Linked DNA regions of Homo sapiens. The gene in region 3 interacts genetically with the main gene of each other region. Each region holds a gene or a part of one and is shown on either strand. Other genes may lie near its edges.

The links.
Region 1: changes in DCXR (region 3) and PTPRE together harm fitness more than expected from each alone (negative genetic interaction), as found in Homo sapiens cells (one large-scale study listed by BioGRID).
Region 2: changes in DCXR (region 3) and FGFR3 together harm fitness more than expected from each alone (negative genetic interaction), as found in Homo sapiens cells (one large-scale study listed by BioGRID).
Region 4: changes in DCXR (region 3) and TK1 together harm fitness more than expected from each alone (negative genetic interaction), as found in Homo sapiens cells (one large-scale study listed by BioGRID).

Annotation. Positions count from the first base shown.
Region 1 is NC_000010.11:128,059,486-128,067,642, forward strand, and holds part of PTPRE (receptor-type tyrosine-protein phosphatase epsilon isoform 1 precursor), read left to right. Parts: intron 1-1,201; exon of another isoform or gene 1,202-1,359; intron 1,360-1,453; coding exon 1,454-1,530; intron 1,531-2,193; coding exon 2,194-2,230; intron 2,231-2,641; exon of another isoform or gene 2,642-2,940; intron 2,941-3,597; coding exon 3,598-3,695; intron 3,696-6,589; coding exon 6,590-6,709; intron 6,710-8,157. UniProt on the Homo sapiens protein: Isoform 1 plays a critical role in signaling transduction pathways and phosphoprotein network topology in red blood cells. May play a role in osteoclast formation and function.
Region 2 is NC_000004.12:1,799,793-1,803,568, forward strand, and holds part of FGFR3 (fibroblast growth factor receptor 3 isoform 1 precursor), read left to right. Parts: coding exon 1-20; intron 21-1,574; coding exon 1,575-1,744; intron 1,745-1,827; coding exon 1,828-1,951; intron 1,952-2,042; coding exon 2,043-2,233; intron 2,234-3,121; coding exon of another isoform or gene 3,122-3,272; intron 3,273-3,776.
Region 3 is NC_000017.11:82,034,461-82,042,712, reverse strand, and holds DCXR (L-xylulose reductase), read left to right. Parts: upstream 1-5,015; 5' UTR 5,016-5,030; coding exon 5,031-5,082; intron 5,083-5,165; coding exon 5,166-5,263; intron 5,264-5,699; coding exon 5,700-5,854; intron 5,855-5,949; coding exon 5,950-5,992; intron 5,993-6,069; coding exon 6,070-6,169; intron 6,170-6,264; coding exon 6,265-6,329; intron 6,330-6,404; coding exon 6,405-6,522; intron 6,523-6,649; coding exon 6,650-6,753; 3' UTR 6,754-6,855; downstream 6,856-8,252. UniProt on the Homo sapiens protein: Catalyzes the NADPH-dependent reduction of several pentoses, tetroses, trioses, alpha-dicarbonyl compounds and L-xylulose. Participates in the uronate cycle of glucose metabolism.
Region 4 is NC_000017.11:78,178,084-78,186,240, forward strand, and holds part of TK1 (thymidine kinase, cytosolic), read right to left. Parts: intron 7,083-8,157; coding exon 6,972-7,082; intron 4,600-6,971; coding exon 4,506-4,599; intron 1-4,505. UniProt on the Homo sapiens protein: Cell-cycle-regulated enzyme of importance in nucleotide metabolism. Catalyzes the first enzymatic step in the salvage pathway converting thymidine into thymidine monophosphate.

The DNA.
Region 1 (8,157 bases), on a different chromosome or scaffold from region 3:
ACAAACGCCACAAACACCACAAACACAACCCACCCTGATCAGAGACTAAGCAGAGAAAGCAGGGAGAGGACCTAGAGTTACTCAGTAATGACTCAGGAAGGAGACCCTAAGCTTCTACCACATGCCAGACTCTGTGCCCAGTGCAGCATAAACGTCCTCAGAACCAGCCTGGTCCCAGCCTGGCCGAGCCGGACGTTCCTGGGAAAGGTTACAGGAGGAGCAGGGCCAGGCCCACAGCACTTTTAGAAGCCCATGAAAATGTCTTCATTTCTCTTCAAATCACAAACAAAACGTGCAAAACCCATTCTGGAGTGCATCTTTTCACTGGCGACCAACCCAGTCCTAAGATAACCTTCTTAATAGTTCTATGGAGGAAGCTGCAAAGGCAGAAGTGACTACAACCCACAAAAGTCATGATGGAGCCCTGACGTGTGTGTACACACACACTACATGCACACACACACACACAACACACACACTACACACCCACCGCACATAACGCACACACATACACACTCCACACACACACCACACACTCCACACAAACATATCACACACATACCACACACATACACACCACACACATACCACACACTACACACACACACACACACACACTACACATACACACCAAACCCACATGCACACATTCACACAGCATACACACTACACACATGCACACCACACATACACCACACACACTACACACATGCACCATACACACCACACACACACCACACATTACACACATACACAACCACACACACCACACACACAATACACACACACCACACTCACTACACACACACCCCACACACAGAGCACTCCACGGTCAGCCTTCTACCCCGGAAAACTGCTTGTGCAACAGGCTGGATCTACCAGACGCTCCTCACTGTGCTCGCCTTCCAGCTCTGGGGCAGACTCCGGTGGTGGGACTGAGGGTCAGAGTCCCCAATCCTAGACCCCCACATCCACTTGTCCTCATGGGGCTGGTGCTCATTTCCCTGGGAAGCCTGGGAGAGTGGACCCAGTTCTCCTGTCCTGGGGCTCTTTTAAGTGCACCCACACTTGGCAACACTGGGGCTGGGCCCAGTGCAGGGTTCATAAAATACAGCCCTTGCACTGCCAGGGGCCTGGCACATTCTGCTATTCTTGCTATGTAATGACCCAGCAGCCCCCATCCTGGATGCTGAAATCCTACCCTTGTCGTCATGCCACAGCTGAGACAGTCAGTGTTCACCAAAGCAGGTGCATTCTCTCTCAGGACACTAGTGTTCTCCATGGGAACGCTGAGGAAGAACATCTCTGCCATCCCTGGTGTCGCTGTGAAGCTGCTTTTGCCCTTCCCAGGAGCTGACACTGCAGATGAAGAGACAGCACTGTGATTTCTGGAAGAGACAGCACTGTGATTCCTGGTCCTAATATCTTGGCTTTGTTTGGGTTTTTTTTCCAGATGACCATTCTAGGGTGATTCTGAGCCAACTGGATGGAATTCCCTGTTCAGACTACATCAATGCTTCCTACATAGATGTAAGTGGGCAGAGGTTTCTTGTTCCCCTGGCCCAGCTGGGGCATGAGCAGTAAGCACTTTCTTGTCTGGTGCCCGGAGTGTAAATTGTCACAACCTTTCTGGGCAGTTTGGCCACAAGCACAAAGGGTACGGAACTGCCCGTGCTTTACACACTGGCATCAGCATCTGGGAATTTGAATTCAAGAGACAGAGATGATCACAGAGGATGTTCACTACAGCATTATGTATATTCCTGACCAAATAGAACAGGGAGCATGGGTAGTTAAACAGATTGTGGTAAAACCATGTGCAGTGGACTATTAGAACTTGATTTGTATTAATCTTTAAAAGATCATTTAATATCAATTATAAAATTCCCATTAAAAATACAACATAAAATAAATTGTACATGTTCACCCAATTAGAGGACAGAAATGTCTGCATGTCTGCTTGTGGGTGAGTCTGGGAAAGGTTTGGCAGAAAAACAGACTAGAGAGGGGACGTATGAAGTAGGATTTGTTATTTCTGGAATTGCTGGTGAGTTTTCTTTCCTTCTTAACCTTTTCCTGTGTTTTGCAAATTTTCCATGGTGAATATGTACTGCTTTCCTAACAGCAACACCAACAAATCCTTTCAGCAAAGATAATTCTGAAAAAATATAAATCTGATGTTATTTTTTCTAGGGTTACAAAGAGAAGAATAAATTCATAGCAGCTCAAGGTAAGCTTTTTATTAATTTCTCAACGTATTTTTGGTAACGTGAATAGCTCTTATTTCCTTCTCTGTATGCCAACAAGACCAAGGACTTATACTGGATTTGTGTGTGTGTGTTTACACCTAACAGACACGTTAGATATCCATTCACACAACGGATATGTGTAGTCAGAGAAACACACACTTATTCCCACACCTATATGGTGTGAACACAGGGCACGCAATGGCCCCGGCTGCCATTCCAGCTTGTTAATACTTGCGTCAGATAACCTTGAATTTCTCTCAGCTGGCTGAGCCCTACATGGCTCCCCAAGTTTGGGCGAGGGGTTAGTGGGGTGAATAGCTTTTCAGATCAAGGCCATAACTAAGAATATACTTCAGCTGTGAAAACGTGCCCTTCACCTTGCACAGGGCTACCTTGTGTGTTGAGTACTGAATCCAGCATCACTCCGTTCCACCAGAGGTTGTCATCTGCAGGACCTGGTGTACGTGCGGTTAGATATCAGTGGAGCTGAAACCAGATTCCTCAGACTTCCTCACTCTTAGGCCAGGAGTCTTTAGGGCAATGAGCTCTGAAAGTCAGCGTCCATCAAAATCACCTGGGAAGTTGTTACAAATGCAGAATCTCTAAGAAAAAAGGACACACATGTGCACACGCAGAGGCCATCAGGAATGTGCCCAGCTGGAAACCTCAGGAAACCTGACGATCCTGGCTGAAGCAGATGAAAGCATGTGTTTCTCTCTTGCCAGCAGACACCCACAGGGAGCTAGCCCACGGCAGGACAGCAGCAGGGCCAGGGGCTTCCTTATCTCCCCGCCCATCCCCCTCAGCACGTAGCACTTAGCTCGGGACTGCAAAATAGCCGCAGCTCAGACAGGAAGTGGATAGGGGCAGAGGACTTTCTCCTAGTGACACTTTGTCTGTTGTTCACATCCCCCTCCCGAGGGACTTTAGCTCATATCGTATTGGACAGCACCATGCTGAGAGTAAGATTTTGACAAAGAGGAGGGGATTGGGAATGCAGGGTGAGGCTGGCCAGTCTCTGCCTCTCGCAAGGCTTTCACCAGCTCTCCCACACTTGGCTGTAGACCCAGCCCTCATCTGAACCCTGCTTCTTACCTGTGAACGTCATAACTCAACCTGGGCCCAATTATCTTGCCCACTGAGGAGTTCCTAGCTGGAGTGGGTGAGTGGCAGGACAGGCAGCCCCTACCGGTTCCGGAACGCTTCAGGGCATGACGTGTGTGTCCCCAACAAGCCTGAGAAGGGAGTGAACAGCTGTCCAGGGGCCAACGGCCAGGGTGCCGGGGCTGGGACCCCAAAGGGACTTCCCTTCATGCCTTTTGACTTCGAAATTGTCCTCTACACACAGGTCCCAAACAGGAAACGGTTAACGACTTCTGGAGAATGGTCTGGGAGCAAAAGTCTGCGACCATCGTCATGTTAACAAACTTGAAAGAAAGGAAAGAGGTGAGTTCCAGGCATCTGGCCCCGGTATCACTTCCTTTCAGCTGCTGCTGCCGGGCTGGGGATGTTCTTACCACTTCCTTTTCCTACTTCCCTCCCTTCCTCCCACTATCACTGCAGAAAAAAACCCAAACACATGCAGTGGCTTACAGCATTTTCTTCACGAAACAAATCCCCTGTGTCCCCAGCATCTCACTGTTATCTAATCTGTGATAACACAATGACACAAGAGTTTCCTTTTTTTCCCAAGTAAGAGTGGCCCCCGGCTGGCCCCATGGCTCTGCCTGCCTGATGAGAGACATGAATCTTAGAGTTTTAGGATGTTGAGCGTGTCATGCGGCAGAGCTCAGGCTAGAAATGAACATGATTTCGCGCTTATTATCCAGACTAGAGAAATGCTTTTGGAAAACGTTGGTATATTGAAGAAATGTTGATTTGTCATCCGAATATATTTAATTAGCTGTTTCTAATTCAAAAAAGGATGCATGTACGTTATAAGAATTTGAATCATTGACAAAGAAGAAAAGTTGAACTGATTCGTTTCCTAATGTAACAAGTACTCATTAGCATCTGCTGTGCTGGGCCAGCTCTGTCCCAGGTGCAAGGAGTAGGGGCTCAAATTCAGGGCTGAGAAGTGGTGGCTGTGGGGAGCCTGGGTGCGGGGGTGGGGTTGAGTGACAGGCAGGGAGCCATGCCATAGGCAGTGAGCTCACTCTCCAGAATGAAAGAAGAACTGGGAGCCTGAGGGACACTTACCACAGGTGGGGCGAAGTTAGGAGGCTGTGCTTCTGGCGTGTTCTGGCATGAAGGCCCGGTTCAGTGGGAGCCGTGTGTCCTGCCCGGCCCTGCTCAGGGCCTGCTGTGTCCTGAGCTCCTCAGTCATCTGCTGGCCTGGCCCCAGCAGTTCCCAGGCATTGTAGCGAGGACTGTGGGGAAGGGCTGCCATTTTTAGATGGGAGTACCAGGCCTTGGGGAGCTCAGCTGGGGCAGAAGATGGGTGGCAGGAGCCCACAGGAAGGGCAGGCTGGGAGGTGCTCTGGTCCCCGCAGTGCCAGCTTACTAATTGCCACCCAAAACACAGGAAGCAGCCTCCAGCCACCGTTTCTGGTCAGGAATAGGATGGAGGCTTTCATTCTGCTCTGGGGGGAGCTGAAACAGGACTGTGGAGGGCCACCCCTTTGCCCTTGCAAATCTTGCCCTTGTCATGCTTTGTCATGGGGAAGAGGGAAGAGTGACAGAGGGAAGTAGGGGATTCCCAGCCCAGGACTCTTCACTCTGCCTGCGCTGTAGCGGCCATGGAGGAGGACACCCACGCGAGGGAAAAGGAGGCTGACCCTTCATCAGGAGCCTCAGGGTCCCCCGTGACCCATGGCCCATAGGGACCAGTCTTCCTGGGGTTGGTGCTCCAAGCATGAGACCAGCACAGAAGCAGTGGGGCTCAAGGACGCCCTCACTTCCCTCTTTCAGTCATTCTGCTGAAAGTGTCACTGGCATTTTCTCTCCATCTTCCCCCACAACCTCCTACTGGATTTTTCCACTCCTGTGACTCAGTGCTGGGCTGCTGCCGCGTCCTCATTCTCACCAATTCAGATGAAATCATTTCTCAATAGAGTTCCCTTTTTCTTAATTGCTCACACTTCTGTTGTGGTTTCCTTGGCTTCCACATCCTGGGCTCTGCATTGCAAAACACAGCTGCCCTGGCATCTCATGATCGGGTGGGAGGGAGGCAGAGGGAGGGGGTATAAAACCAGCCACCAACACTGAGCCCTTGAGAGGCTGACACATGTTCTCAGTTCCTACTGGAGAGCCTTCAAGGTGAGAAGCTCAGGAGGGACCCCAGGGCTCCCCATAGGGCCAAGACTCACCCAAACCGGGACATGTAGGCATTTGCAATTCCCCTGGGCTGCATCAGAGATGGCCTGTGACCCACAGCCCCGCAGCCCCGCCCGGAGCCAGGTGTAAGGAGGGGGAAGTTGTCGGTAGCCGTCATAACACAATGATGCTGCTCTCTACTAAATACCAGATGCTGTTTGTTTCATAAGACTGTTAATCCTGGAGGCTTGACCACGAGCTGTGCTGCTCAGGGGCCATTCCCTGGATATACTCTCTGACTACTGGCAGGCTTGTTCCATTCCAGACATGTTTCTCTGGCAGATGAAGTAGATCTTTTCCCCCTTGAGGTGGGTCCTCATTCACTCGCGAAGTGATGGAGGACACCACCGGGCAGGTGCTGCGGGCGGTGCTGCAAAATGAAAGGGCTCCTGGAACGTGTATTTTGGGTCATTCTTGCTTCAGAGGTCGGGAAGGTAAAGAAATGGGCCTGTCTGTAGCAATGCACCCTCTTCTGCAGACTCCACGGCAGCCTCGTCCCTGCTAGAGAAAAATGAAGATCGTTAGACCAATCATAGGTTCATCACTCTTGAATGGCAGACTGGCAGTGGTGCAAATTAACTTTGTCCTTAGTGAACTGAGCAGGAAAAACACAAATTGCTGAATCCAGTGGGAAATGTCTGGGGGGAGCACCGTCCTTGCCCTCTAGCCTGAGGGTCACTTGGAGTTAGGTGCCCAGCTCTGAAGGCTACAGGCTCAGCATAACTGGTTGATGGTCAGTTAATAAAATGTATGGGATTCGTGAATGAATGAAGAAATGAGACATTGTTGCTGTCTACATCAGAAAGCCTTGGGGCATCCTAGTCATAGTTTCAAGGCTGCTGTTCACCAGTTACGCAGCCTCAGTTTCCCCATTCAAGAGGTCGACACACGTGAACTTGTTTCTCAGCTGTGGGAGCTGTGTGACTCCAGCTGGTGTGTGTGAGGCCTTCTGTAGTTGGGTGGGGGGATGTCATGATGCATTGCACCCACAGATCTATTTGCTTCTATTAAATTGTTCCGTGCAGGAAAAGTGCCATCAGTACTGGCCCGACCAAGGCTGCTGGACCTATGGAAACATCCGGGTGTGCGTGGAGGACTGCGTGGTTTTGGTCGACTACACCATCCGGAAGTTCTGCATACAGCCAGTAAGCATCTCTAGTTGCTGCCCTTCCAGAAAGATCATTTTCAGAGAGCATCATGCCCAGAGTTAACATCCTTCTGCATTTATGAAGTGCTTTGCTCCCAGCCCGGCACTGTCGCAGCCCTGGCTGAGAGGGTGCAGTGGCCAGGCTGTGATAGGCAGACATGCAAGAGGGCCAAGACACCAGAGGCCGGTGCACAAGGGTCTGCAGGCAGTGCTGGGGGCTCCTAATTCCTAGTGACTCCTCTGGGCCTCTCCAGGAGGAAGACCAGTCATTGGAGGGGCCTGGGGGTGAGGTCCTCCCTCAGTAGCACAGTGACATTTCACACACTGACTGGGAGGTGGGGTTTTTTTCTAACACTTTCCGAATTCTGTCTGAAACCTCCTCGTTATTTTCCACACTTGGGTTCTGCTAGTTCCACCACCCCAAAAGGTTTAAGAGAGAGATCAGTAAAAATATGTGTATGCAAAGCAGATGAAATCAAGATATAGAAGAAAGTTTAAAACCATAGAGAAAAGACAGAAGACCATTTTGTCAGGATTTAAAGATACAGTCATTGGCATAATTAGGTCACAAAATAAGTGTCTGAGGTTCCAAGAAGCCACAGCAAAAAAGGAAAAGGATGAGCTGATTATTCTTATCCTATCCCCTGCTGGCATCTCTCCCAGAAATGTGCACACAGGCGCACACAGGCACTCACATGCACACGCACACACATACTCCCACACACAGGCACACACATGCACACATGCACATACACCCACACACAGGCATACACATGCACACACACCCACACACAGGCACACACACGTACACCTACCCACACACAGGCACGCACATGCACATACTCCCACACACATGCATGCACATGCACACGTACACCCACACACAGGCACACACATGCACACACACGCACACAACCGTACAATGCATGCACGTTCACACACACATGTGCACACACACCCCACTCACATGCACACATGCACACATTCACACATGTGCACACACATACACCCACACACATTCACATGCACACACATGCACACACGCACACACATTCATGCACATGCATACATGTGCACACACACGCACCCACACACGCACAGATGCACACATGCACATTCACACATGTGCACACACATACATCCACACACATTCACACACGCACACGTGCACACATGCACACATTCACACATGTGCACACACACATACACGCACATGGGTGCACACGTGTACGCACCCACATTCACACATGCACACACATGCATACATGTGCACACATTCACACGTGCGCACATACACACATTCACCCACACATACATGCGCACACATGCACACATACACATGCATACATGTGCACACACATGCACACACATCTACTTCCAAATACGCTGTGTATCACCTTCCGTGATCTGGGCAAGGGAATTAAACTCATGGGCTCTGGGTCCAAA
Region 2 (3,776 bases), on a different chromosome or scaffold from region 3:
GGACACAGGTGTGGACACAGGTAGGAGCAGGGTCCAGGGTTCAGGCCAGCCGGGGTGGGGCCCGCTGCCACCGCCAAGCCCTGCCCTTCACAGGCAGCTGAGGGACTAAGGCCCCGGAACAACCTCCCTGGGGTCACCCCGAAGGTCTGGTCCCCTCAGGATACAGGAGGGGCTGGGTCACTGACATGGCTCTAGATGCCCCACCCTGGTGGCAGGGCTGGGGTGCAAGGGGACACCGTGTTGCTGATGGGGAGACTGAGGCACAGGGCCCTGGGGGTTCCAGGAGCAGGAGGAGGCCAGGGCTGGCCTGTGGGGCTCTGGTGTTGGCTATAGGTGAGGTGGACCCCGCAGACATTAGCGCAGCAGGGCAGGGCACTCAGGTGGCTGCCGTGGGGTGGATGGACCCGGGGTGAGGGCGCCGGGGCACCTGCCACAACCAGTGGCGGGCAGGGTGGCTGGCAGGAGGGTGGCTGGTGGGTGGGCTGCGGCTGTGAGAGAGCAGTCGGGGACGATGCCTGGCGTCCCGGCCTGGAACGGTGGCAGGTGGACTTTGCCAAGTTGTAGGGTGGGGAGGTGGGGCTTCTGGTTTTGGAGGGAGCTCTGAGGGGAGTGCGTGCAGGTGAGGGTCATCGTGGCACAGACATGGGGGGCAGTTACGACTTGCGGACTGATGGTGTGTGCGCTGGGTCCCTGGGCCAGTGGGGTAAGCAGGTGAGGAAGGGAGGCTGAGTCCATGAGAGAAACAGCTGGGGGAACTCACCCTGGGGGTCTCCAGGAGGCCTGGGAGGGAGCTCAGCACCGTGGGGTGCCTCTTTCCAGCCTGTGTCCACACTGCTGCTTGCTGGGCCTCAGTGCCCCTGATGGGCGTGTGCCTGGAGGGGGCTGGCAGTGAGCTCACTGAGGGGAGGGCTGCTTCCCTCCTGGGGAATGCCAGCCCATCCTTGCCTGGAGTCCCGGCAGGAAGGCAGCACCAGCCCTGAGGAAGGAGAAAAACCAGTTGGGCTGTGAGAGGGGTGGTGGGAGCCCTGGACATCGAGATGGGAGGAGGCAGGGCCTCCAGGGTGCCACCGTCTCTGGGTGCCCGCCAGACTTGGAGCTCTGCAGAGGGTGGTGTAGGGTCTTGATTTCCGTGGGCCCATGCTGCCCAGCTGCCTCCAAGGCTCCTGGCTCTGCAGGCGACTGGGCTCCTCTCCTGGTAAACTGCTCCCAGGTCCTGGCTTGTCCACTAGATGGGCCTGCCCCCTGGGTCTTCAGTCTCCCCGTTGGTGGGCCTGGCCCTGGCACGCCTCTCTGGGCAGGTGGGCTCCCCTGGACAATGCCCTGTGCCCTGTGACTTCACAGGTCCGGGCAGAGCACCCTGGAGGGGAGGGGAGGGGACACACGGCCCAGCTCTGAGAAAGCCCCGGGGAGGGGACAAGATGTGGAGGCTCCTGGGAACCTCATCCCGCCCTCTTCCTACACAGGACGGGAAACTGAGGCTGGGGATGGGCAGGGGCAGCTCTGGGAAGGGGGTTGTTCAGAGGGGCCTCTGCTCCCACTCGGGTCATGGCCTTCACACGCACCTCGGCCCGCAGGGGCCCCTTACTGGACACGGCCCGAGCGGATGGACAAGAAGCTGCTGGCCGTGCCGGCCGCCAACACCGTCCGCTTCCGCTGCCCAGCCGCTGGCAACCCCACTCCCTCCATCTCCTGGCTGAAGAACGGCAGGGAGTTCCGCGGCGAGCACCGCATTGGAGGCATCAAGGTGGGCGCGGCGGGGTGGCTCTGGGCCTGGCAGGCGCGGTGGTTGCTGCCTCCGCTCACTCACCCGCCCGCGTCCCGGTGCAGCTGCGGCATCAGCAGTGGAGCCTGGTCATGGAAAGCGTGGTGCCCTCGGACCGCGGCAACTACACCTGCGTCGTGGAGAACAAGTTTGGCAGCATCCGGCAGACGTACACGCTGGACGTGCTGGGTGAGGGCCCTGGGGCGGCGCGGGGGTGGGGGCGGCAGTGGCGGTGGTGGTGAGGGAGGGGGTGGCCCCTGAGCGTCATCTGCCCCCACAGAGCGCTCCCCGCACCGGCCCATCCTGCAGGCGGGGCTGCCGGCCAACCAGACGGCGGTGCTGGGCAGCGACGTGGAGTTCCACTGCAAGGTGTACAGTGACGCACAGCCCCACATCCAGTGGCTCAAGCACGTGGAGGTGAATGGCAGCAAGGTGGGCCCGGACGGCACACCCTACGTTACCGTGCTCAAGGTGGGCCACCGTGTGCACGTGGGTGCCGCCGCTGGGGCTCCTGGGCTGGCCCCAAGGGTGCCCCTTGGCTGCGGGTTGCGTGAGGATTTGGGTCTAGGGGTTGGAGCTTCGGGGGCAGAAGCTGTGGGGGTGCTTGTGGGGCCAAGTCTCAGCCACCCCACACCTCAGGGCCATAGGCAGCTGCGTTGGGACCCGTTTCCGTGTCTGCAGAGGGCCAGCCTCAGCCACTGAAGTCCCTGACATGGAGCTGCCCACGGGCTTCTTGGGGGTGGGTGCGGCTTGGGCAGCAGTGGTGCCCCAGGACAGGAGGGCAGTGTGGCCAAGCCCTCCAGGCCCCCTCTGGGCCTCAGAGGCGGTGGCTGAGCCCCGACCTGGCCGATTGGCTCTCGTCAGCTGTGTGCAGTGGGGCCCGAGCTCACTGTCTGCCCGCCTCCTGAAGCCCTTAGCTTTGTTCCCATGGCTGCCGGGTGGGGGCCACTGAATTGGGACGGTTGCGACACTCAAAGCCCAAAGAGAAACATCTGTTCAGAGAGAAGACGGTCTCTTGGGGGCGGGGAGCAGGCGCAGGGCGAGGGTGGAGTCCAGACCCCGCCCAGAGAGGCCGCCTCGGGCCCTGTCCAGGGTGCAGGTTCTGCAAGAGCCCGGGGGAGGGCAGGCCAGTGACCAGAGGTTGTCTGAGGGTCTGGGCTGGGTTGTTGGGGTGGAGGCAGAGACGTGCATCCTGTGAAACCACAGCCACCGTGAAGTGCCTCCACGCCTCCTCCAGGCAGCCTTTGGGGCTGACGCAGCCCAGCCTCGATCTGTACCTTGGGGGTCTCCCACATCCTGCCTCGTGCCCGGCGGGGCTGCCTCGGGGGCGTGCCTGAGCCGGGTCTCTTGTCCCCGCAGTCCTGGATCAGTGAGAGTGTGGAGGCCGACGTGCGCCTCCGCCTGGCCAATGTGTCGGAGCGGGACGGGGGCGAGTACCTCTGTCGAGCCACCAATTTCATAGGCGTGGCCGAGAAGGCCTTTTGGCTGAGCGTTCACGGGCCCCGAGCAGGTAACGACTCTGTCCCATGCCGGCCGGCACAAGAGCTCCAGCTCCAAGGCCCTGGCCGCGCGCCCTGCACGCCCCGCACGCCCAGCCCTGCTCGCTCCCGCCCCGGCTCGCGCTCCACTCGGGGCCGCCTCGGCAAGGCTGGCAGCTCCAGCCTCCACGGTGACCGCCCGCTTCGAGCCCTGTGGCCTGCGCCGACCCTTCCCGCACGCCTGCGACCCCCACAGGAGGTGCCCGGTGCCCACCGGGCCGGCTCCGTGCCGTCTGTGAGCACCCCTTTGCGCCTCTCTCCACCCCTGCCCGCTGCCTGCTCGCTTCCGCAGCCTGTGTGTCCCTGTGTCCATCCTCCACCTGCACCCGCCCGGCTCTGCGCTAACCCGCATGCTGCCTGCCCGCCTGCCGCTCACCTGGGACAGAGGACTCGCCGGTGGAGGGGCCTGGCTTCGGGCTCAGTACCGGTGTACCAGGCGGAGGGCCCTCAGCCGCGTGGCGGTGACCAAGTTGGCG
Region 3 (8,252 bases):
TCATGTGTGCCTACACCCGTGTATGCCTGTGTCCCCGTGTGAATGCTCATGTGTGTCTATGCCCATGTGTGCCTGTGTGTGTCCCTGTGTGTATGCCCAAGTGCTTGTGCTCACATTGGCATGTGCCTCTGCGTGTGTGCACACAGACATGAGGCCAGGAACAGGTGGCCTCTCCCTCCCAGGGTCCCCCGTGCTCTCTCTCAGTCATGCCTTCCTCCCACCTCTCCAGGAAGCCCCCTGTGCTCCCTCTGGCCCTGCCTGTGTGGTTCACATGCTACTGGCCTCCATTTAATGGTTTCACTGCAGCTGTGTCTCTGAGGGCTCAGTCTTTTTTTTTTTTTTTTTTTTTTGAGATGGCGTCTCGCTCTATCACCCAGGCTGGAGGGCAGTGGCGGGATCTCGGCTCGCTCCAAGCTCCGCCTCCCAGGTTCACGCCATTCTCCTGCCTCAGCCTCCCAAGTAGCTGGGACTACAGGCACCCACCAACAGGCCCAGCTAATTTTTTGTATTTTTAGTAGAGACGGGGTTTCACTGTGTTAGTCAGGATGGTCTCGATCTCCTGACCTCGTGATCCGCCCGCCTCGGCCTCCCAAAGTGCTGGGATTACAGGCATGAGCCACCGCGCCCAGCCTTATTTTAAAAAAATTTTTTTAAAACTTTTTATTTTTTATTTTTTTTTGAGACGGAGTTTCACTCTGGTCACCCAGGCTGGAGTGCAATGGTGCGATCTTGGCTCACTGCAACCTCCGCCTCCCAGGTTCAAATCATTCTCTTGACTCAGCTGCCTGAGTAGCTGGGATTACAGGCACGTGCCACCACATCCAGCTGATTTTTGTATTTTTAGTAGAGACGGAGTTTCACCACGCTGGCCAGGCTGGTCTCAAACTCCTCACCTCAGGTGATCCACTGGCCTTGGCCTCCTGAAGTGCCTTTGTTCTCCTTTTTGCCCTTTGAAGCATGTGATCTCTGTGACCTACTCCCTGTTCTTGCACCCCCTCCCCTTTCAAAATCCTTAATAAAAACCTGCTGGTTTTGCGGCTCAGGCGGGCATCAGGGTCCCACCGATATGTGATGTCGCCCTGGGAGGCCCAGCTGTAAAAGTCCTCTCTTTGTACTCTTTCTCTTCATTTCTCAGCCAGCCAACACTTATGGAAAATAGAAAGAACCTACATTGAAATACTGGGGGCTGGTTCCCCCGATATCTGGCGCGCCAACGTGGCTTTTCTTTTTCCTGAGTGCATGTGGGGACCCGCTTCCCTTTGGTAGTTGTGTAGAAACGTTCATCGGTCCGGTTCACAGAAATGCTTGTTCGACTCAAAAAAAAAAACCAAAACTGACTCATATGGTTTAGTAATAGACTGGGTACCAAAGGGCTATTTAAAAAACAATTGCTCCTGTGGCGGGAGGGAATGCCTGGAGGCTACTTGTTTTATTTCTTATTGGAAGAACGAGGATCATCATTTTACTTTGTATAGGAGGTTCAGCTCTTTCTTTCCCTTAAAATGGGAAAATAAGGACATTGTCCCCCGAGGGCTCGTGTGATACTCCCCATTCTGAGCTCAGAACACCCAGAACTTTGAAAATTGGCTCTTGCCACATCCAGACTGCGAGTATGGGAAGGGGAAACTTTTCTGTCTGTTGTCCCTGCTACCGCCCCTCGCGTCCGTGATTCTGAACCCCATGATAAATCTCCTTTGAACCCTTTTCCTCTTTTTGATGCCAGTCCTCTTTTATGGGACTCCAATTGGCATTACGATAATTTTTCTCAACCCAGGTATGCCACTCTACCTCTTCAGCATCCCCGGGCACCTCAAATTGCTTTTTTTTTTTTTTTTTTTTTTGAGACGGAGTCTCGCTCTGTCGCCCAGGCTGGAGTGCAGTGGTGCGATCTCGGCTCACTGCAAGCTCCGCCTCCCGGGTTCACGCCATTCTCCTGCCCCAGCCTCCCGAGTAGCTGGGACTACAGGCGCCCGCCACCACGCCCGGCTAATTTTTTGTACCTTTAGTAGAGACGGGGTTTCACCGTGTTAGTCAGGATGGTCTCGATCTCCTGACCTCGTGATCCACCCGCCTCAGCCTCCCAAAGTGCTGGGATTACAGGGGTGAGCTACCGCGCCCGGCCCTTCAAATTGCTTTTTGACAGCGGATAACATCGGGTGTGGCCACCACTGCTCCTCTCCCTCAGTATCAGTGTAGATTCAGACATTCTGCTTTGTTCACCTCCAATGTGACTATTCCTATAGAGTTGTGTTAAGCTTCGTTATATGCTGTTAGTGGGGAATATCAAAATTTGGACGAACAATCAAACTATCCAATGTATTAATTGTCATTTATATACTTGTGTTAACTCCCGTTTTGACTCTAGGAAAAGTGTAATGTTGGTTCGAGCTCGAGAAGGAATCTGGATACTGGTAACTTTACCCAGACCTTGGGAATCTTCCAAAGCTGGGCAAGAGGGCAGAGGGCTAGGGGCCAGGATCGGGCCCTCCAGGCAGTGGTTGGGAGGGCACAGGGCACAGGGTGGGGGTAGGGGATGCCGAGGGTGCTTCTGACCAGCCAGCAGGACTCACAGGGAGCAGGGCTTGAGCCACGGATAACAGGACCAGTGAGGCCTGGTCCACTCTCCTGGGGGCACGTGCAGGCCGCTGGAGGGGTCTAAGCAGATGGGCCTTCCAGGAAGGACAGGTTGAGGGGTGTCCTTCCCTTGGCTGCTGGCAGGCAGAAAGCAGGCTCCAAGGGTAGGGGCAGAAAGCAGAGTTTACAGGGCGGCCAAGGGGGGGTTGGACTGGCCGCAGTGCCAGGTCTGATATGGACCATGCACTTGGCTGTCCTCCAGAACAAACCAGGACCTTGCCTCCTGCTGTGCCTGGCCACCCTTGCCTCCGGCCTGTCCACCTCTGTGGGCCCAAAGCCCCAGATGATCCAAAGGCCCTACAGTCACCAATTCCATACTCCTGGCCACAGAAGGTCACTCCTGGCCACAGAAGGGCAGTAGTTCTAGACTTTCCTACCATGACCCACAGAACAAAGTAGCTTTTACATGGAGGCCCAGTGTGTGGGTGCACACACACACGCATCTGTAACTGACCCCAAAGCCTCGGGAAGCAATGCTGGTCTTTGCTGGACCACCATGTACTTCCATGACCCCAATCCCTTCCTATCCTATTCAACTTCTAAAAGGTGCCCCTGGCCGGATGCTGGCTGTCCAAGGTGACCTGGGGTTCAAGTCCCTTTCAGATGAATGTAGGGTACAGCCCTATGGGGCTTAGCAGGTCTTCTCCCCGTGTGCGGAGACACGAGATTGTGAGAAATAAAGACACAAGACAAAGAGATAAAGAGAGAACAGCTGGGCCCGGGGGACCACTACCATCAAGACACGGAGACCAGTAGTGGCCCCGAATGGCTGGGCGCACTGATATTTATTGCATACAAGACAAGGAGGGCAGGGTAAGGAGGGTGAATCTTCCAAGTGATTGACAAGGTGAAGCAAGTCACGTGATCATAGGACAGGGGGCGCTTCCCTTTTAGGTAGCTGAAACAGAAAGAGAAGACCATACATCAGCGCTTTCTTCTATGTACTTATAAGAAAGATCAAAGACTTTAAGACTTTCACTATTTCTTCTACTGCTATCTACTACGAACTTCAAAGAGGAACCAGGAGTACGGGAGGAACATGGAAGTGGACAAGAAATGTGACCATTAAATCATAGCACCACAGGGAGGGGGTTAGGCCTCCGGATGACTGCGGGCAGGCCTGGATAACATCCAGCCTCCCACAAGAAGCTGGTGGAGCAGAGTGTTCCCTGACGCCTCCAAGGAAAGGAGACTCCCCTTCGCAGTCTTCTAAGTAACGGGTGGCTTCCCAGACAACGGCATTACTGCTTGACCAAGGAGCCCTCAAGCAGCCCTTATGCGGGAGTGACAGAGGGCTCACCTCTTGCCTTCTAGGTCACTTCTCACAATGTCCCTAGGTTATATTAGTAATGCAACAAAGAGTAATATTAAAAGCTAATGATTAATAATGTTTATACTAATGATTGATAATTATCCATGATCATGATCATTTTTATATCTAATTTGTATTATGACTATTTTTATTTTAACTGTTTTTTTTTTAAAGATGGAGTCTTGCTCTGTCGCCCAGGCTGGAGTGCAGTGGCGCAATCTCGGCTCACTGCAAGCTCCGCCTCCTGGGTTCGCGCCATTCTCCTGCCTCAGCCTCCTGAGTAGCTGGGACTACAGGTGCCCGCCACCGCGCCCGGCTAATTTTTTGTATTTTTAGTAGAGATGGGGTTTCACCGTGTTAGCCAGGATGGTCTCGATCTCCTGACCTCGTGATCCACCCGCCTCGGCCTCCCAAAGTGCTGGGATTACAGGCGTGAGCCACCGCTCCCGGCCTATTTTCTTTGTTATACTGAAACAGTTTGTGTCTTCAGTCTCTTGCCTTGGCATCTAGGTAATCCTTCGCCCACAGATGAAAGCGGAGCTCTGCTGACATTGGTGTCTTCTCCAGACGTAGTTGGTTGTCCAAATTCTTTCCCTTGGCTTTAAAGTGAGCCGGCGGTGTCCTGCTCCCAAGCCTGAGAGATGATGGGCACAGGCGACACTTTTTAGGACATGCCGATGTTTTCAGAAACAAAACAAGAAATGTTAGCCCTGAAATTCTCCATTTCACGTGTTCTTCCTGATATTAACCACACATTCTTTCCGATATTAACCACCACATCGTCTTTTTGCAATAATCTTGGCAGGGAAAAATATGCTAGCCAGGGTCCACTACGTCGATTTCAAGCACGGAAGATGGGTCACACCAGGCACTTCAAAAGACCCGTCCCTGAGGCAGCGGAGACCCCGCCCCGCCCCGGCGCGCCCACTCCTTTCGGCCAATCACTGCAGCGGGGAGCAGCTATTTGAATGTCCCCACCGCCTATCTGAAGGCCGCCCTGCCATTGGCCCCGCCGCGCCCCGCCCATCGTGGCCAGAGCTTCAAGTTCCGCAGCCCCAGTGCGGAGGGCGGAGACTGCGCCGACATGGAGCTGTTCCTCGCGGGCCGCCGGGTGCTGGTCACCGGGGCAGGCAAAGGTGGGCGGCGGGGAAAGGTGGGCAAAGGCCGGCGGCGGGCAGAGGCGGGCAGGGGACGCCTTCACTGAGCCCGCTCCCGGCAGGTATAGGGCGCGGCACGGTCCAGGCGCTGCACGCGACGGGCGCGCGGGTGGTGGCTGTGAGCCGGACTCAGGCGGATCTTGACAGCCTTGTCCGCGAGGTAGGTCCCGCCGGGTCCCAGCGCTGCGAGGCGGCGAGCCAGGAGGGGGCGGCAGCGAGCGGGGGCGGTACCTCTGTGCGCGACTCCGCCTCCCCTCGCGGGCGCTGCGCTTCTCACCGCGGCCTGGGCGCCCGCGCACCCTCTCTCGGGGCTGGTGGCCTGCGTGGGCGGCCGGGTGGTCGGCAGAGCCGCCGGGGCCCCCGGGCTCAGAAAGAGGCCGAAATGGCTGCGAAGCAGGCCCCGGGCAGGAGTCGCTCGGGCGCAGGGAGGAAGTGAACCGGCCGGAGGTAGCGCCCGGCTGCTGGCCCCACAGTCCCGACACCTTCGGAACTCCTAACTCCTTTACTTGTCCGGCTGAAAGGTCACCAGCCCCAGTCCCCAGCTGTGCCGCTTGCTGGGCACAGAGCCTCTGGTAACTGCCCCCTGATACACACAGTGCCCGGGGATAGAACCCGTGTGCGTGGACCTGGGTGACTGGGAGGCCACCGAGCGGGCGCTGGGCAGCGTGGGCCCCGTGGACCTGCTGGTGAACAACGCCGCTGTCGCCCTGCTGCAGCCCTTCCTGGAGGTCACCAAGGAGGCCTTTGACAGGTGAGCCTGTGAGGGCGGAGGAACCTCAGGGAGGGGCTGTCCTGGAGGACGCAGCAGCCCTAATCTCTGACCAGGGTCTGTCCCTCGGCCTCTAGATCCTTTGAGGTGAACCTGCGTGCGGTCATCCAGGTGTCGCAGGTGAGCTGCCCTGTGGGCTGGACGGGAATTCTCGTGAGTGATGCCAGCTCTGCCTCACGGTCTCGCTGCGATTCCAGATTGTGGCCAGGGGCTTAATAGCCCGGGGAGTCCCAGGGGCCATCGTGAATGTCTCCAGCCAGTGCTCCCAGCGGGCAGTAACTAACCATAGCGTCTACTGTGAGTGCCCCAGCTGTGCCCTCAGCCCCACCCCAGCCCCAGCCTCGCCCTCATCACCGACCCCAGCCCCAGCCAGCTTGGGTTCCTCTTCGTAGGCTCCACCAAGGGTGCCCTGGACATGCTGACCAAGGTGATGGCCCTAGAGCTCGGGCCCCACAAGGTGAGCAGGGCTGGGGTACCTCCCCCAACCTAGGACACCCCACTTGCCCTGCTGACCCCAGCTGTCCCGGTGTAGATCCGAGTGAATGCAGTAAACCCCACAGTGGTGATGACGTCCATGGGCCAGGCCACCTGGAGTGACCCCCACAAGGCCAAGACTATGCTGAACCGAATCCCACTTGGCAAGTTTGCTGGTGAGTCAGGTGGGAGCCCAGCCAGCGTGGTGCCAGCAGTCCCTGTGTGTGCCCTGGGTAGGGGTGGGAGGGAAAGATGGGCGGCAGCCTCCTTCCTCTATGCCCCTGACCCCCGCCCTGCCCACAGAGGTAGAGCACGTGGTGAACGCCATCCTCTTTCTGCTGAGTGACCGAAGTGGCATGACCACGGGTTCCACTTTGCCGGTGGAAGGGGGCTTCTGGGCCTGCTGAGCTCCCTCCACACACCTCAAGCCCCATGCCGTGCTCATCCTACCCCCAATCCCTCCAATAAACCTGATTCTGCTGCCCAGACTATGTGCTATTCCTAGGCTGCCAGCAGGTAGCTGGGGGCTTGGGGCCAGGTGTGGAACGCGGGCAGAGACCCATGACATTCACATTCCAATCCAAGGGGGAGCGTGGCTCCCACTCCTGAGGTTTTCAGGCCTGGCCAGTTCTCTGTCAGGGAGGTGGGAGGTGGTGAAAGGTCACCTCCCAAAGAGGGTGGTGAATTTCAGCAAGGTTGGCCTTCGGGCCTGTCCAGAACCTCTGGGGTGAGACGGTGTGTGCATGTGAGTGTTGATGGCCCCCTCTGTGAGTGTACAGTTGGCTCCTCTTCCTTCAAGCTAATGAGTAAGACAAAAGGGAAACAAGGAGAACGTCAAGCTTCTCCACTTCGTCGGTGATCTGAGCCACTTTGTTGAATCAGATGATGGTTTTCGGAAACTAGAAGAGCGTTTCCTCAACTTGTGCTATTCACAATGTAATGAGCATAGACACAGCACCCTGAAGTCTAATCTGCATTTTATCATCTGAAGTCTAGACAAGTAACCATAAGTCAAGCCTCCTCCCACCACGGCTGATTTCAAGCTACCAGTTAGATGTCATTTAACGTGGAGCTGGAGGAGATGCCCTCAGCACCCTGTTATGTGGTGTTTGTGTCCATAGGTCCCACAGATGTACATAACCGAGGGGCAGAGAAAACAGTCGTGTATGCAGAAATAAGTAGGAAGTGACGTTTGCCGATTTTGCTTTTAATAACACAAATTGTAAGCTTCTATAATTTGTTAATGATCATTAACAACTGGCTAGCAAAATTGTTGAGAATTCAGCAGTTGGCTTTCCTGAGCCAGTAGGAGCTGCCCCCACACAGCACAAGGCGGAAGCAGACAGTGGCCCTCATGGCACCCCCCAATCCCGAGTGACTCTAATCCCGGGACCATGGCTCCCTCCAACCCCGAGTGACTCCAATCCTGGAACCTCATGGCACCTTCCAATCCCGAGTGACTCCAATCCCGGGACCTCATGGCACCCTCCAATCCCGAGTGACTCCAATCCCGGGACCTCATGGCACCCTCCAATCCCGAGTGACTCCAATCCCGGGACCATGGCTCCGGGCCCACTGATTCTGGCTTCAGCGTCAGCGGACTGTGCTGGGTCACTGCTCTCTTCACTCTCCACACCACACCCCGACCCCCGCGCCCTCCTCCACCCTGCCCCTCTGCCTGGATTGCCCTTACTCCCGGTGCCAGCCAGAGGAGTTGAGGGATGCGGGGAGCCTGCCTCGGCTCCCACGAGGCTCAGAGAGGCCTGACCTGCTTCAGCCTCTTTTCAGACCTTCCCGGTCAGCACAACAGGCGCTGCCTGAGAACTGGCCCGCCTCTCCCCACCCCTCCCTGACATGTGCCCTCCCAGAGGCACAAATCAGCCTGAGGGAGGCCTTGTACACAGCC
Region 4 (8,157 bases), 3.9 Mb from region 3:
TGGTCTCAAACTCCTGACCTCAAGTGATCCGCCCGCCTAGGCCTTCCAAAGTGCTGGGATTACAGGTGTGAGCCACCGTGCCCAGCCAGAAAAAAAGTTTAAAAAAATAAATCAGAGCTCCTACTATTGCCAAGCGACCCTGCAAGCCCACCACACACTGTGCAGCTGTTGATGCAAGGGTGCCCACCCACCACCAGCATCTGAAGCACAGCACCCCCAGCTAGGAGCTTCAGGTTTTCCAGAGATTTCCAGGTGAGTCTCTCTTGGATGCCAACAGTTTCTACAGAGCAGTGTGAGCACCTGTGTGTCTCGCCCGGGGTACAAAGAAGCACAGAAGCTTCTGACCCAGGGCCTTCCTCAGGATGGCACGGTGGCTACTCTGTGAAAGGCTTTCCCTGCTGACCCAGAAAACGGGAACAAGGCAGGTTCGGCTGGGCTTCATCCACTGTCCACGTAGACAATGAAGGAGCGAAGGACAGTCCTTCTGCTGGGTCCCATGCTAGGAACCCCTCTCCTCGATCTAGAACTGCTTGCAATGGGAAGACCCTGAACTTCTTTTGTTTTGTTTTGTTTTGAGACTGAGTTTTGCTCTTGTTGTTGCCCAGGCTTGGAGTGCAATGGGGCGATCTTGGCTCACTGCAACCTTCGCCTACCGGGTTCAAGCGATTCTCCTGCCTCAGCCTCCCAAGTAGCTGGGATTACAGGCATGCGCCACCACGCCTGGCTAATTTTTGTATTTTTAGTAGAGACGGAGTTTCTCCATGTTGGTCAGGCTGGTGACCCGGAACTTCTTGAAGAGAACAAGGGCACACAGAGGCCAGGGCAGAATGCTGATGTCTGGGTAGGGTGTAATAAATACTCACTGAATGAACTCAAGTTTTACTTGCTGGCCAGGGAGGAAGTAGACCGAGAAATCCCTCCTATAGGCTGAACAGGGGACAGGACTTCATACGCTGGCTCCTGACTCAGGGCATTTGGATGTCGAGGAAGGAGAAGGGAAAGGTTTCTGCCTCGGGGGTCTGGGTCAGCCTCTGTCAACAAGGTTTACGCAGAGCCAGGAGAACAGAGCTATTGAACAACTCACAGCGGCAGGTCTGAAGGAGGGAGAGCCTTGCCAAAGCTGAAGCTTCCTTGTTCTGAGAGGGCCATGTCCCCAAAGCTGATGCAAAATCCCTGGATGCATTCTGAGGCCACAGTTTGGGAGCAAAAGAGAACAGCTGCAGCCCTATTCCCAGCCTGGGCTCACTTTCTCGCCAGGAGTCCCTCAAGCACGGGGCAGCAACAACGACGTCTCCACGTACGCAGAGGCATGGGGGTGCTCAGGGGCGCACCTCTGAAGGTCAGAAACGGAATGGCCATACCCAAGCGGGGAGGAGATGCCAGCTGCCGGGTGGTCGGGAACCCAGAGCGGACACTGGCAGCCTCAACTCCACAGGGCAGATGCCCCGCACAGGGGAAGGGACCCGTCAGCCTCCCCACGGGAATGGAATTTGCAGCTGTGACTCATACAGAATGTTGGGCAAGAACAGAACCAGGAAGGCAGGACTGGCCTTTTGAGGGGACAGGCCCTGTGACGTCCGGGCAGGGTATTCAGGCCAGAGCGGCCTGGCTCTGTGCTGGGAGGCAGGGCGGGTAGAGACCTCGAAGCACTCACCAAACCAACTCATTTATTCTTCCTCCAGGGTATAGAACTAGACTAAGTGTGGCCAGGCGTGGTGGCTCACGCCTGTAATCCCAGCACTTTGGGAGGCTGAGGCAGGCAGATCACCTGAGGTTAGGAGTTCCAGACCAGCCCGGTCAACATGATGAAACCCCGTCTCTACTAAAAATACAAAAGGTTAGCTGGGCATGGTGGCAGAAGCCTGTAATCCCAGCTACTCAGGAGGCTGAGGCGGGAGAATCACTTGAACCTGGGAGATGGAGGTTATAGTGAGCCGAGACTGCGCCACTGCACTCCAGCCTGGGCCACAGAGCAAGACTGTTTTTAAAAACAAACAAAAAACGAACTGGACTAAGTATACTAAACGTATAGGTGGCCCTGTGCCCAGGTTCTAGTCTTTGAAAGATCAGCAGAAGTGACGTTTGCAGCTTCTGGTCAGGCCCATGAAAACCTCACACCCAGGGGCTCCGCCACGTCTCTTCCCCTCCGTGTCTGTATACAGCCAGCCAGGGCGACCTAAGCCGCCTCGTGGGCGGCCTCCCCATCAACCGGCCTGGAACCACGTAGGGGGTCTGTGAGCGAGAAATAAATTCCTGTTATGTTTATATCAAACCACCACATTGTGTACTTCGAGGCAACCCTAAAAGTACCTAAGAGGTCAAGTCTGCTAAACCCCTTGGAGAGAGTTTCAGTTTCATTCTTTGTGATAAACTAACAAAAATAAAATCTCCAAAGCAGAGGAAAGAAAACTAAGATAACAGAAAATAACCCAGAAACTCAACCACAGAATATGTTCCTGAGGAAATAGAAAAATCTGGAAAAGTCTAAGAAAAGATTTTCAGGAACATAATGGAAGGAACAGCATAAATTTAAAAATAACCCAACAGTAACTTGTCAAACAAAACGGAGCATGATGAATTAGAGCAGCAGATGTAAAAATAGTCACTGAAACAAAACACACTCTGGAAGATGGAACCCAGAACACCTCAGAGATGGATGAGGAGAGAAATACCTGAAGTGATAATGGCTTCATTCCTTCCCCAGAAATGAAAAGGCACACCAGCTATAAAGCAGGATAAATGAAACAAAGCTTCCCCTACACACATTGTGCTGAGAGAGAACAGATAGAATACCTGACCAGAGGTAACATTAGAGAGATGGCGGCCTTCCTCTGAGCAAAAACACAATGACCAGCGCTGCTACTTTTCAAAGCAACAAGATCAAGACCAGGCGTGGTGGCTCACGCCTGTAATCCCAGCACTTTGGGAGCTGAGGCATGCGGATCACCTGAGGTCAGGAGTTCCAGACCAGCTGGCCAACATGGTGAAACCCCATCTCTATTAAAAATACATAAATGAGCTACGCATGGTGGCACGCACCTGTGATCCCAGCTACCCGGAAGGATGAGGCAGAACTGCTTGAACCCAAAAGGCGGAGGTTGCTGTGAGCTAAGATCACGTCACTCCACTCCAGCCAGGGCAACAGAGCAAGACTCCATCTCAAAAAAAATAAAAATTAAAAAGGCCGGGCACGGCGGCTCATGCCTGTAATTCCAACACTTTGGGAAGCCAAGGCGGGTGGATCACCTGAGGTCAGGAGTTCAAGACCAGCCTAGCCAACATGGTGAACCCTTGTCTCTACAAAAATTAGCCAGGCATGATGGTGGGTGCCTGTAATCCCACCTACTTGGGAGGCGAGGTGGGAAAATCGCTTGAATCCGGGTGGCAGAGGTTGCAGTGAGCCGAGATCACGCCATTGCACTCCAGCCTGGGCGACAGAGTAAGACTCCGTCTCAAAAAAAAAAAAAAAACCCAAACCCACACAAGATCAACCTACCTCTTGCTGCCCAGCTTAAACTAGATGACAAAAGAAAGATTTCCATACAAAGACTGGCAGCTTCCCATCTATACCTCCTGGCTGCAAAAACTACTAAAAAAGGTACTTCAACAACAAGAAAATAAACGTATAAGAAACAAGCAAAAGGAACCATGAGGCAAACCAAACATTACTCCCCACCTCCCCCTTTTTTTTTTGAGACAGGGTCTGGCCTTGTCGCCCGGGCTGGAGTGCAGTGGTGCTATCACCACTCACTGCAGCCTCGACCTCCCAGGCTCCATCCTTCTGCCTCAGCCTCCTGAGTAGCAGGGACCACAGGTGTGCGCTGCTATGACTGGCTAATTTCTTTTTTTTTTTGGTAGAGATGGGGTTTTACTATGTTGCCCAGGTGAGTCTCCAACTCCTGGGCTCAAGTGATCTGTCCACCTTGGCCTCCCACAGGCTGAGATTACAGGTGTGAGTCACTGCATCTTGCCAGTAAATAGATATATGTATTTTTAAAAAGGTACAATGGCCAGGTGTGGTAGCTCATGCCTGTAATCCCAGCGCTTTGGGAGTTCAAGGCGGGGCGGATCACCTGAGGTTGGGAGTTTGAGACCAGCTTGACCAACATGGAGAAACCCCATCTCTACTAAAAATATAAAATTAGCTGGGCGTGGTGGCGCATGCCTGTAATCCCAGCTACTCGGGAGGCTGAGACAGGAGAGAATTGCTTGAACCCAGGAAGCAAAGTTTGCGGTGAGATTGTGCCATCGTACTCCGGCCTGGGCAACAAGAGCAAAACTCCGTCTCAAAAAAAAAAAAAAAAAAGTAAAACGAATCCTACAAGACTATGACACTATGACAGGGAAACTAGAAAGGGGCCTTCAGAGGGTATTCCAACACTAGTTGTAGCTATTTAACCTTGTTATTTTACTAAAAGATCAGATAACTTCCAAGTCAGCGAGGGAAAACGGGAGGACAGAGCGGAAGCTGGCAGGAAGAGTGATGCCAAGACAAGCCAACTTACAAACTGCCCCTCGTCGATGCCTATGACAGCCACGCCCAGGGCCTCCTGGGCCACGTCTCGGAGCAGGCAGGCGGGCAGTGCCTCCATGGTGTTCCTGGGAAGAGAAAGCCAGAGCGTGAGCAGGGCCAGGGAGGCCAGAAGCCACAATGCAGGGGCCAGGGAATGGCACTGTCGTGACCACCTGCTACCTGCAAAGCAGGCTCAGTGTTCACCCAGCCGGGCTTTGAGAAGTTAGCACCTATGGGAAAGGCCCTCGTCCAGAAAACCAGTTATTTATTTATTTTTTATGAAACAGAGTCTTGCTCTGTCACCCAGGCTGGAGTGCAGTGGCGCCATCTCGGCTCCCTGCAATCTCTACCTCCCAATTCTCAAGGGTCTCAAGCGATTCTCCCACCTCAGCCACAAGAGTAGCTGGGACTACTGGCACACACCATCACACCCAGCTAATTTTTGTATTTTTAGCAGACATGGGGTTTCACCATGTTGGCCAGGCTGGTCTCAGACTCCTAACTTTTAAGTGATCCACCCGCCTTAGCCTCCCAGAGGAAAACCAGTTATTTATACAAGCCACTTCACTTGATGCTTTGGATTAGAAATTAGTAATGTCCAGTACAAAGCTCAATGAGACTAAAAACTCTTCCACTGTTCAGGAGCTGGGGGCAGACTAGGCCAACTTCATCAGGTACCAGGGCCCATGATACCATTAGGGGCCAGCCAAATGTTTCCTTTTAAAATTCAGAAGAATGAATAACTAGAACTGGGCCTGGGTTATATTTGTCTTTATATTAATTATGTTGCAAAACATAAATTTTTAAAATCCTGTATTCTGGCCAGACACAGCAGCTCATGCCCGTAATCTTTGGGGAGGCCAAGACGGGAGGATCACTTGAACTCAGGAGTTCGAGACCAGCCTGGGTAACACAGCGAGACACTGTGTGAAAAAAATGTAAAAATTAACTGGGTGTGGTGGTGTGCGCCTGTAGTCCCACCTGCTCAGGGGGCTGAGGTGGGACGATCACTTGAGCCCAAGGGTTTGGGGTCACGTAACAGTAAGCTATGATTGAGCCACTGCACTCCAGCCTGGGTGACAGAGAGAGACCCTGTCCCAAAAACAAACAACAAACAAACAAAAAAACATACTTTACAACTATTGTTTCGTTATTACCTTGCTATAATCCTACTTCGAGTTCTGGAAAGAATGTGTGAAACAGTATTTTGGGCATTTTAAATTCCCTCTTCCCTCCCTAAACAGAGAAAGACAAAGTGAGGGCAGGTGGGAGGCCAGCTGTGGCCCCTGCAAGGGCAGCCTCTCGAGCCATCAATGCTGCTGGCCCAGCCTTGGCCTCTGTGGCCCGTGTTAGAGATGACTTGTGACACACGGGCAGAACTCATATTTAATCCCGGATCTGACTGACTCCAGAAGTTGTACTTCCAACAGCTGGAACGAAGTGACCTCCTCTGCTTTCCCTGTCCCCACCAGGTGTAACACCACCCTGTGCCGTGGACATCGCATCTTAGGAATGAGGAAGCAAATTTGGAAAAGTAAATGACCTACATCAGACAGCATGGTCACGAAGTGCGGTTAAATTCCCACATGCAACTCCAAGCCCCAAGCACCCTCCACTCCACCAGCATCTGGCTTCAGGAGCCCCTCAGCTCCCACCGAAGGCCACACGCCGGGTGGATCTGTTCTCTGCACAGCCATAGCAACTCTCGGATACAGCTCCCAGCCAGGGCTCTGAGGCTGAAGCCCTATAATGTGTGGCACAGCATGGCTTTGCCACTGGGTGCCCAGGTGGACAAGTCCAGAGGACCAAGCAAAGCGTCTCAGGCTCAGAAACATCAGGCCCACATCTGCTGCCAAGGAAGTGAATTTAACTCCCAAACTGAGGTTGCAGGCGGAAATGTCCAGCGAGCTCAAACAGCTACACATAAAACAGGGAAGCGTGAAGGCTGCCAGGTGACGGGGGAGCCAGCCAACAACGGACAACTAAAAAATTAAACAAAAATCAACGTGCAGGCCAAACCAAACCAGTCTGCAGCCTGTGTGAAGCTGAAACCCTACGGCAGAGTTTCTGAACACTGGCAGGCTCCTGACATTTGGGGCCAGCTCGTTCTTGCATGGGGGCCGTCCTCTGCACCATAGGACCCTTAGCAGCAGTGTCCCTGATTTCTACACATTAAAGCCCAAAAGCATCCCCTCCCCCCTCCAGTTGCAACAACTAGAAATGTCTTCAAACATTGTCAAATGGACCCTGGCGGCAAAATCACCCTCAGTGGAGAACCACTGGCTCCAGCCCAGGGAGTGGAGAGTGTGCGCTACCTTGCCAAGCACCTTGGAAAGTGTGCTGATTTGAATCATTCAATGTTCAAATGATTAACCATCCCCATTAAAGAGAGTCCTAACAGTGTGTCCTGTGCCTTGTGATTTTCCACTGGACAGGACTGCAGGGGGCAGGGACTGACCGGTCATGTGTGCAGAAGCTGCTGCTGTAGCGAGTGTCTTTGGCATACTTGATCACCAGGCACTTGTACTGAGCAATCTGGAAGCGACGGACGCGTCTCATCAACTCTGTGCTGCAAGAGGAGAGAGGGTCAGGTGAGGTCCACGGCGGGAGGAGTGGGAGAAGGAGACCCCTCCCCAACAAGCCTGGCTCCTCATTGTCCCTAGTGGTATGCAGACTGAGCCCACCACAGCCAGAAAAGAGCAGGGCAGAGCAGGCAGGGTATAATATCCCTACAAAGAGGGTTGGAAGTCAGAATTCTCTATGGGGAAGAGGTCCAGGAATGGTACTCAGGTGGTCCCAGGAAGTGTGGGAGGAGTAACCTTCTCCAAGATGTAGTGGGGAAGGCAGAAGCAAAGGCTACATGTAGAGGGAACCTGCGACTGCATTCCAAAGTAACCTCATCCCAGAGTTGTTCCCAGAGTTCAGAGTTTTTCTTTCTTTCTTTTTGGGGTGGAGTCTCGCTCTGTTGCCTAGGTTAGAGTGCAGTGGAGCGATCTCAGCTCACTGCAACCCCTGCCTTCCGGGTTCAAGAGATTCTCCTGCCTCAACCTCCCGAGTAGCTGGGATTACAGGAGGCTGCCACCATGCCCAGATAATTTTTGGTTTTTTTTTTCAGTAGAGATGGGGTTTTACCACGTTGACCAGGGTGGTCTCAAACTCCTAACCTCAAGTGATCAACGCACCTCAGCCTTCCAAAGCGCTGGGATTAAAGGCGTGGGCCACCACACCTGGCATACAGCTTTTCTAAATTAATTTCAGAAAGTCTTTGTGTGCAGCGTCAAAAGCACTTGCTTCTGGGTCCAAGAAGTCCAACTCTGAGCCACATCTTCCTGAGCAAGGGGTTTGAGCTGAAGTGATCCCCAGGGCCATAAAAGAATGTTGGGGCAGGGCATGGTGGCTAACATCTGTAATCCCAGCACTTTGGGATGCTGAAGTAGGAGGATTGCTTGAGACCAGGAGTTCAAGACCAGCTTGGGCAACATAGCAAGACCCCAGCTCTATAAAAATAAAATAAAATTAGCTGGGTGGAGGCGGGGGGGTGCACGCCTGTAGTCCCAGCTACTTGGGAGGCTGAGGTGAGAGAATTGCTTGAGCCCAGGAGTTTGAGACCAGCCTGGGCAACATAGCAAGATCCTACCTCTAGA